Regions from separate parts of the Homo sapiens genome. Here all the other regions are linked to region 2. Evidence: fine-mapped expression QTL. A gene starts in region 2. Each other region holds a variant in brackets. All regions are shown on one strand. Distances are from middle to middle.

The links. PIP is the estimated chance that this variant, and not a neighbour inherited with it, causes the effect.
Region 1: its variant is the best candidate, but not a certain one, in a credible set for the expression of MAP7D3 in whole blood (TOPMed, PIP 0.50).
Region 3: its variant is the best candidate, but not a certain one, in a credible set for the expression of MAP7D3 in blood mononuclear cells (TOPMed, PIP 0.90).

Annotation. Positions count from the first base shown.
Region 1 is chrX:136,299,067-136,301,829 of GRCh38, reverse strand. ADGRG4 (adhesion G protein-coupled receptor G4) reads right to left here and starts at 867. Exons shown (of 26, transcript NM_153834.4): 1 at 830-867. The variant C/T (reference allele first, on the strand shown) is at 1,451.
Region 2 is chrX:136,250,353-136,253,115 of GRCh38, reverse strand. MAP7D3 (MAP7 domain containing 3) reads left to right here and starts at 1,716. Exons shown (of 19, transcript NM_024597.4): 1 at 1,716-1,827. The coding sequence starts at 1,758. RefSeq lists a silencer at 1,610-1,999.
Region 3 is chrX:136,216,818-136,219,580 of GRCh38, reverse strand. MAP7D3 (MAP7 domain containing 3) reads left to right here. Exons shown (of 19, transcript NM_024597.4): 18 at 86-183; 19 at 1,088-2,763. The coding sequence ends at 151. Among named protein-coding and RNA genes, the nearest start is that of FHL1, 21 kb to the right of the region's middle. The variant C/T (reference allele first, on the strand shown) is at 1,628.

The DNA of each region.
Region 1 (2,763 bases), 49 kb before region 2:
AATAAACGGTGCTGGGAAAACTGGCTAGCCATATGGAGAAAGCTGAAACGGGATCCCTTCCTTACACCTTATACAAAAATCAATTCAAGATGGATTAAAGACTTAAATGTTAGACCTAAAACCATAAAAACCCTAGAAGAAAACCTAGGCAATACCATTCAGGACATAGGCATGGGTAAGGACTTCATGTCTAAAACAGCAATGGCAACAAAAGCCAAAATTGACAAATGGGATCTAATTAAATTAAAGGGCTTCTGCACAGCAAAAGAAACTACCATCAGAGTAAACAGGCAACTTACAGAATGAGAGAAAATTTTTACAATCTACCCATCTGACAAAGGGCTAATATCCAGAATCTACAAAGAACTCCAACAAATTTGCAAGAAAAAAACAAACAACCCCATCAAAAAGTGGGTGAAGGACATGAACAGACACTTCTCAAAAGAAGACATTTATGCAGCCAAAAGACACATGAAAAAATGTTCATCATCACTGGCCATCAGAGAAATGCAAATCAAAACCACAATGAGATACCATCTCACACCAGTTAGAATGGCGATCATTAAAAAGTCAGGAAACAACAGGTGCTGGAGAGGATGTGGAGAAATAGGAACACTTTTACACTGTTGGTGGGACTGTAAACTGGTTAAACCATTGTGGAAGACAGTGTGGCAATTCCTCAAGGATCTAGAACTAGAAATACCATTTGACCCAGCCACCCCATTACTGGGTATATACCCAAAGGATTATAAATCATGCTGCTATAAAGACACATGCACACATATGTTTATTGCAGCATTATTCACAATAGCAAAGACTTGGAACCAACCCAAATGTCCATCAGTGATAGACTGGATTAAGAAACTGTGGCACATATACACCATGGAATACTATGCAGCCGTAAAAAATGATGAGTTCATGTCCTTTGTAGGGACATGGATGAAGCTGGAAACCATCACTCTCAGCAAACTATCGCAGGGACATAAAACCAAACACCACATGTTCTCACTCATAGGTGGGAATTGAACAAGGAGAACGCTTGGACACAGGAAGGGGAACATCACACACCGGGGTCTGTTGTGGGGTGGGGGGAGTGTGGAGGGATAGCATTAGGAGATATACCTAATGTAAATAACGAGGTAATGGGTGCAGCACACCAACATGGCACATGTATACATATGTAACAAACCTGCACGTTGTGCACATGTACCGTAGAACTTAAAGTATAATAATAAAAAAAAAAGAAAGAAAAGAAAAGGCTCTAGGCGGGGCCAGGCATAGCAGCTCCAGCCCAGCAGCAGTGGCAGGGCAGCGGTGGCGGCAGTTCGCTGGAGGCCCGGCGCCCGCCGCAGCCCCTCCCCGGCGTGATGCATGGAGACCCGACCAGCCGCTCGACGCTGAGCCCGGAGTGGCCTCGGGCTCTGGCCTGCCCGGCCGCCCGAGGGCTGTG[C/T]GCGGCCCGCGGGCCTCCCGGCTCCCGCGGATCCGTGACCCGGCCGTCCTGTCCCAGGAAGTGGACGTCCTGAGCGCCACGGCTCACTCCCTGTGCAGTCGGGCCTGCCTGGCATGCAGAACCTAAAGGCAGATCCAGAAAGGTTTTTTTTGTTTTTTTTGTTTTTTCCCTCTCCCTTCAGGTGCACTAAGATAGGGAAGCTAAAAGCAGACTTGGGGTGTATGCTTGCAGCTGCAAAAAAATATGTATGGGAACAAACACACAACTATCCCTCCCAAATAAACACAACAAAGAAACACAGAAGCAGTCCAAGCCTCTAATAAACTCTCCCACCCTGAATCCTTAAAAACTCTTAGTCTGTAAAAAAGTGTGCCTCTAACCTAACTCAGCCAAAAGGCTCCTCTCGGGTTTGTTTTCTTTAAAATAAACCTGTCTTAACTGGCAAGCCACCTTTCATGTTTCTTTCCTCTTTCTTTAATTCTTGCAGTAGTGACCAAAATACATGAATTTTTCTTTCATGTATTTTTATTATTACCTAGAGGAAGATATATCCAATAAATGAAATTTAAAACTCTCTTCAAAAGATTGTATCAATACTTTCTTAATTATTTCAAGGAAGAGCCCTAAAATATATATATATAACCATAGTTATATTATGAATTCTGCTTTGTGGTGTTTTTTCTTTTTTGTTTTTTATTATTATACTTTAAGTTTTAGGGTACATGTGCACAACGTGCAGGTTTGTTACATATATATACACGTGCCATGTTGGTGTGCTGCACCCATTAACTCGTCATTTAACATTAGGTATATCTCCTAATGCTATCCCTCCACACTCCCCCCACCCCACAACAGGACCCGGTGTGTGATGTTCCCCTTCCTGTGTCCATGTGTTCTCATTGTTCAATTCCCACCTGTGAGTGAGAACATGCGGTGTTTGGTTTTTTGTCCTTGCGACAGTTTGCTGAGAATGATGGTTTCCAGCTTCATCCATGTCCCTACAAAGGACATGAACTCATCATTTTTTATGGCTGCATAGTATTCCATGGTGTATATGTGCCACAGTTTCTTAATCCAGTCTATCATTGATGGACATTTGGGTTGGTTCCAAGTCTTTGCTATTGTGAATAATGCTGCAATAAACATATGTGTGCATGTGTCTTTATAGCAGCATGATTTATAATCCTTTGGGTATATACCAAGAAATGGGATGGCTGGGTCAAATGGTATTTCTAATTCTAGATCCTTGAGGAATTGCCACACTGACTTCCACAATGGTTGAACTAGTTTACAGTCCCACCAACAGTGTAAAA
Region 2 (2,763 bases):
ACTAGTTTTTTTTTTCTTCGAGACAGAGTCTCGCTCTGTTGCCCAGGCTGGAGTGCAGTGGCAGCTCTCGGCTCACTGCAACCTCCACCTCCCGGGTTCAAGCGATTCTCCTGCCTCAGCCTCCCGAGCAGCTGGGATTACAGGGGCCCGCCACGACGCCCAGCTAATTTTTGTATTTTTACTAGAGACGGGGTTTCCCCATGCTGGCCAGGCTGATCTTGAACTCCTGACTTCAGGTTATCCACCTGCCTGGGCCTCCCAAAGTGCTGGGGCTGGGATTACAGGTGTGAACCACCGTGCCTGGCCCCCCACTTGTATTAATCTACATCATCGCAAACACTTATTGACCACGTTTTAATTTTTGTTAAAATTGTAGGTGCAACGTAATGTCTTTTTTTTCTTTTTCTTTTCTTTTCTTTTTTTTTTTTTTTTTTTTTTTGAGACAGAGTCTCGCTCTGTCACCCAGGCTGGAGTGCAGTGGTGCTATCATGGCTCACTGCAAACTCCACCTCCCGGGTTCAAGCGATTCTCCTGCCTCAGCCTCCCAAGTAGCTGGGATTACAGGCACCCACCACCATGCCCGGCTAATTTTTGTATTTTTAGTAGAGTCGGAGTTTCACCATGTTGGCCAGGCTAGTCTCGAACTCCTGACCTCAAATGATCCACCCACCTCAGCCTCCCAAAATGCTAGGATTACAGGCATGAGCCACCGTGCCTGCCCCATATTACATATTATATATATTATATATTAATATATGTAACTTATGCTATCATTGCTAACATATGTAATATATGCTATTATTAGCTTCTTCCATTTTACAGCTCCCATGTCATTTGGAGACTCAGTGGTCTCGCCAAAGTGCCCATCTCACAAGTGGTCCAGCCCCATTTTGGGATCTCCTGCACCACACTTAATGGCCCCAACCATAAACTGCGTGCCTACAACTATGTCACTACACACACACTCACAACAGTGGTGACTCCACCTCATAAGGGCAAGCCCCCATGAAGTGAGGTCTGCCCCTTAAAGGAGCCTCAGGCCAATGACGGTTTTCCTTGTGAATGGGAAAAACATTCTGCAACCTGGTAGAGTCTCTCCCAAAATCCGGAGAGATTGATGCCAATAAGTCCTCTGCCTCTCTTTGAAGACTCACAAACATCTTAAAGATATTTCACCCAACTTTGAGACCTATGTGTCATGATTTATTGTGCAACAGTTTAGGGAAGCCTACTCATGATGGGGCCCCTAGCACCTCAAAGCAAGCCTGCGACTCCCAACCTCTCCCTAGGCTTCTTCCCCCAACTTGGGTCTTTCTTTGTGTAATGTTTCAAGGACTAGTAAACTCATGATACAAGCGCACCCAGGAGGCACGCCGTAAATGTTCTTTAAATGAATGAATGAATGAGGAAGGAATGTTACTGTGTTGCTAGGTAAAGGTGAAGAAAGGAATGTTGGGGGGGCCAAGCTGGGTGCTGATTGGCTAGTCCTCACAATGCAGTAGGGGCAGAGCACGGAACATAGGAGAGGGTTTCTTTAGACCAGGTAGTCGCTGCCCAGCCGGTCAGGACGTGGGACGCAAGGGGCAATCCTGCCCGGTTCGCAGGTCCGAGGCGGGCGCGGTGGCCCTTCGGGCCCCGCCCCGCCCCGCCCCGCCCCGCCCCGCCCACCGGCAGCCCGGCCACGACCCAAGCGGAGGCCGCGCCGACGCCTGCGCAATGTATGCGGAGAGCCACCACCGCCTCCGGTCCCGACTCCGATGATGGCGGACGGCGCCGCAGCTGGCGCTGGCGGCAGCCCATCCTTGAGAGAGCTGCGGGCACGGATGGGTGAGCGGGCGGGTGGCTCCCGGGGGTGGTTCGGGCCCGCGTGGGAGGCAGGGTTCCCGCAGTCCCCGGGCCGTCGGAGCGGCGCAGCGGGCGCCACAAAACTTTTCCCTGGAGTCGCCTCGTGCTATCTGGTCCTCCCCTCACCCCCGCCGGAGTGCCCTGGGATGGGACAGGGGCGGGGGCGGGGGGTTGAAATTGTCAGCCGACGCCGCGAGCCGCCTGAGTCCCGCCGCCAACGGTCGAACTGCCGCTGCCAACGGTCTGAGCCCCGCGGACGCGGCGCGAGGCAACTCACGGGCTCTGCTTCGACGGGCGGGGCGGGGGCGGCTGGAAGCCGGACCCCGCGGACCGCCCCGTGCCCCATCTGCCCTTGGGGGGCGGTGGCCGCCCGCGCAACCGCCCCAACGAACGCACAGCTGCCTGGGATGTGCGGGCGCCCGCAGGGACTCCGCGCGCCGGCGCCGCCTCCGCCGCCAGGCAGCCTTTCCAGGCACGGAAAGTTTGAGTTATCCCCCAGCCCGGGTCGTGGGCGAGTTTAGGCGCTTTTACTGTCGCAGTCCTTGCCTCTCCCAAAGGCTTACCTCCTGCACCCTCCCGGTCAAGGTCCAGGGAGGAAGCTGGGTGAGGGTGGGGATGCTTAAAAGTTGCTTTAAAAGTTGGGATGAAACTTGGCTCTTTGCATCTCCTGATTTGCCTGCTGTAGCACATGACTTCAACAAGATGTCATCTTCTGTGGGACATCTTGCAGTCTCTAGGCTGAACTGAACGGGAATCAGCACTTCAGAGTGCTTTTTCCTCAACTAGTCCCATCGCCAAAACGTTTTTCCCTCCTCGAAAACCGTTAATCTTATACAATTTGACAGCACATTGCTTGGTCCAGGAGACTGCTCCACTACCTGAGATAGGATTTCTTCCTTTCAGGAGGTTGCTTTTAGC
Region 3 (2,763 bases), 34 kb after region 2:
TATGAGCAGCAGCGTATCTGTGACAAGATCACCAACATTGTTTAAGTCACACAGAACTATCTTTGTCACATTTTTCTCCTGACAGGCACAAACAAAATCTGAAGGATTCCATGACATCTTGCCAAAGTCCTCAGACACCTTTAGACAATAAGAGAAGAAGCAAACCTGTTTCTCCTCATTTGGGTAAGTCCTCATCTCATCTACCTTTTTCTTGAAAGGCAATTGACCCTGAACCCGCTCCCCTCCTTCTAGCCATTCCAGGGCAGTCTTTGCACCATATAGCTTTGGAAGAGAAGGAGAAGACAGTTGTGGGTCTGCAGGAATGATGTGAGAGTCTTCCATTAAGTTGGTTTTGAGAAAGTAGAGAGTAGATGACTTGATTCTAATTTTTATGTACCACATTTCAGGCCGGATATAAAAAATAAGTTCTGGCCAGGTGCAGTGGCTTACGCCTGTAATCCCAGCACTTTGGGAGGCCAAGGCGGGCAGATCACTTGAGGTCAGGAGTTTGAGACCAGCCTGGCCAACATGGTGAAACCCTGTCTCTACTAAAAATACAAAAATTAGCCGGGTGTGGTAATGCATGCCTGTAATCCCGGCTACTTTGGAGGCTGAGGCAGGAGAATCACTTGAACCCAGGAGGCGGAGGTTGCAGTGAGCCGAGATCCTGCCACTGCACTCTAGCCTGGGTGACAGAACAAGACTCTGTCTCAAAAAAAAAAATGATCTTTTCAAGCTTGCATCTCAGACTCCTCTGAGCTCCTGGTCTGCTGGTTGCTTGGCAAGCACACAGACAGTTGCTTAGGGCAGAAGATTAGGGAGGTCTTCGGAATAAGCCTCAACCTGTTTCCAAAACCAGAAGCCTCTTGTTTTTCTTTCCTTGAGAAGTTCTCTTTGAAATTGAGAAGCACCTTGGGCCTGGTTGGGGACTGGGGAAGTGAAGGACATTTATAGGACCAGTGTGTCAGCAACTCCAGAGGGGCTGCTGAGAGTCCTGGGCGTGTGCCCTGAAGGGAGGCCAGGGACAAGTTGCTGTGAGACTAGCATCTTCTCTACTGATCTTTCTTTTACTTTTCCCTCTGGTCAGATATGTAAACCTTACTCAGCCTGGGAGATGAATACATCTTCCACTCTGGATAACTCAACTCCTGGGCCCATCAGTCCTCAAATTTTTCTGCTTCTGACTTGAACCTGGTAAAGGAAGTGACACCGAAAAATTGAAAGAAACTGTCAAAAGGCCACTTTGATGTATATCTCAGATGTTAAAGTCATCTTATTCTCTTGTGTCTAAGCAAGAGTTCTAAGTAAAGAGTGGTTTTTGTTTTCTTTGGAAAATCATCATTGTCTCTCATTCTTGTGTTGTCCCACCAATGTGTTTGCTGGAGTGAGTGCATCAAGGATGCTTTCCTGAAACTGTAACTGTGGAGTTTCTAGAAGAATCTGATTGCAGAACTAATTCTCTTTCAGTATATATTTGAAATCTTAAAGTAATGCTTTTTCTTTTTCTTTTTCTTTTTTTTTTTTTTGAGACGGAGTCTTGCCCTGTCGCCCAGGCTGCAGTGCAGTGGCACAATCTCGGCTCACTGCAACCTCCGCCTCCTCATCTCAAGCAATTCTCCTGTCTCAG[C/T]CTCCCCAGTAGCTGGGATTACAGGCATGTGCCACCACACCTGGCTAATTTTTTTGTATTTTAGTAGAGATAGGGTTTTACCATGTTCACCAGGCTAGTCTCGAAATCCTGGCCTCAAGAGATCCACCCGTCTTGGCCTCCCAAAGTGTTGGGATTACAGGTGTGAGCCACTGCACCCAGCCAAGTAATGCTTTTTCTGTGTACCAGTGACAATTTTGACAGCTAAAAACTCACAGTTGATCTTGTAGAGAACAGAATAGATTATGCAAGGGCCGCAGGATCGCTCACAAGAGCTGTCAGATTGTTTCTAATATAAAAATACCAAAGGTTGCAAAATCCAGCAAATTGTATTTTACTGTGATATATGTATATTTTTAACTCTACCCATCTGTGCCAGTGAGTACACAGGCACTAATAACCTGAAATGCTGGGAGTCCTGTAAAGCCCCATCTTGGAACAGTCAGCACCTTTCATGCTCTTGTCAGTGTTTCCTTTTGAAGGACATATTGGTGTTTATCTACAGAAACATATATTATTTTTATTGTGTACATAAAGGAGTATATGGCTGTTGTCCCGTGGGGTATGTTTAATTCCTCTAAATGTTTAAAGTACTTTTCTGCCTGTACTCTCCAGTTCTGTCGTTGAGTATACACTCAGGCTTGAGATACAACCAAAATTTGCTTGCCTTTCTCTAGCCACTGGCTGCCAGTGAGTTCGTGTGATGGGCACACAGAAATGCACACAGATGTACATACACGTATGTATGCACACACAGTATATGATTCCATAAAATTCAAATGCAGATTAATTCTCCTAATGAGTTTTCAGTGTTGAATCGTAAATAGTCTGAAGCAGGCCAGTGTTCCTTTTGGCTGCCAGTCTTGGATTAGTAAAAGGAGGTAATTCTTTCAGATTCCCTGGTTCTTTGCCACTCAGAGTATTGTACTTTTGATATAGAATAGAGAAGGTTACCTTTGGTTTAAAAACTATTTTTATATACTAGCTCTTTCATGTATAAAACAGAGACAATCATCCTAACAAAAGAGTTCCTGTTATTTTTCTGCACAAATGTCTTGTGTTGAAACACTGTTACAGTTCCATATAAATGTGTGCTATATAAAATAAACTTTGGAGAT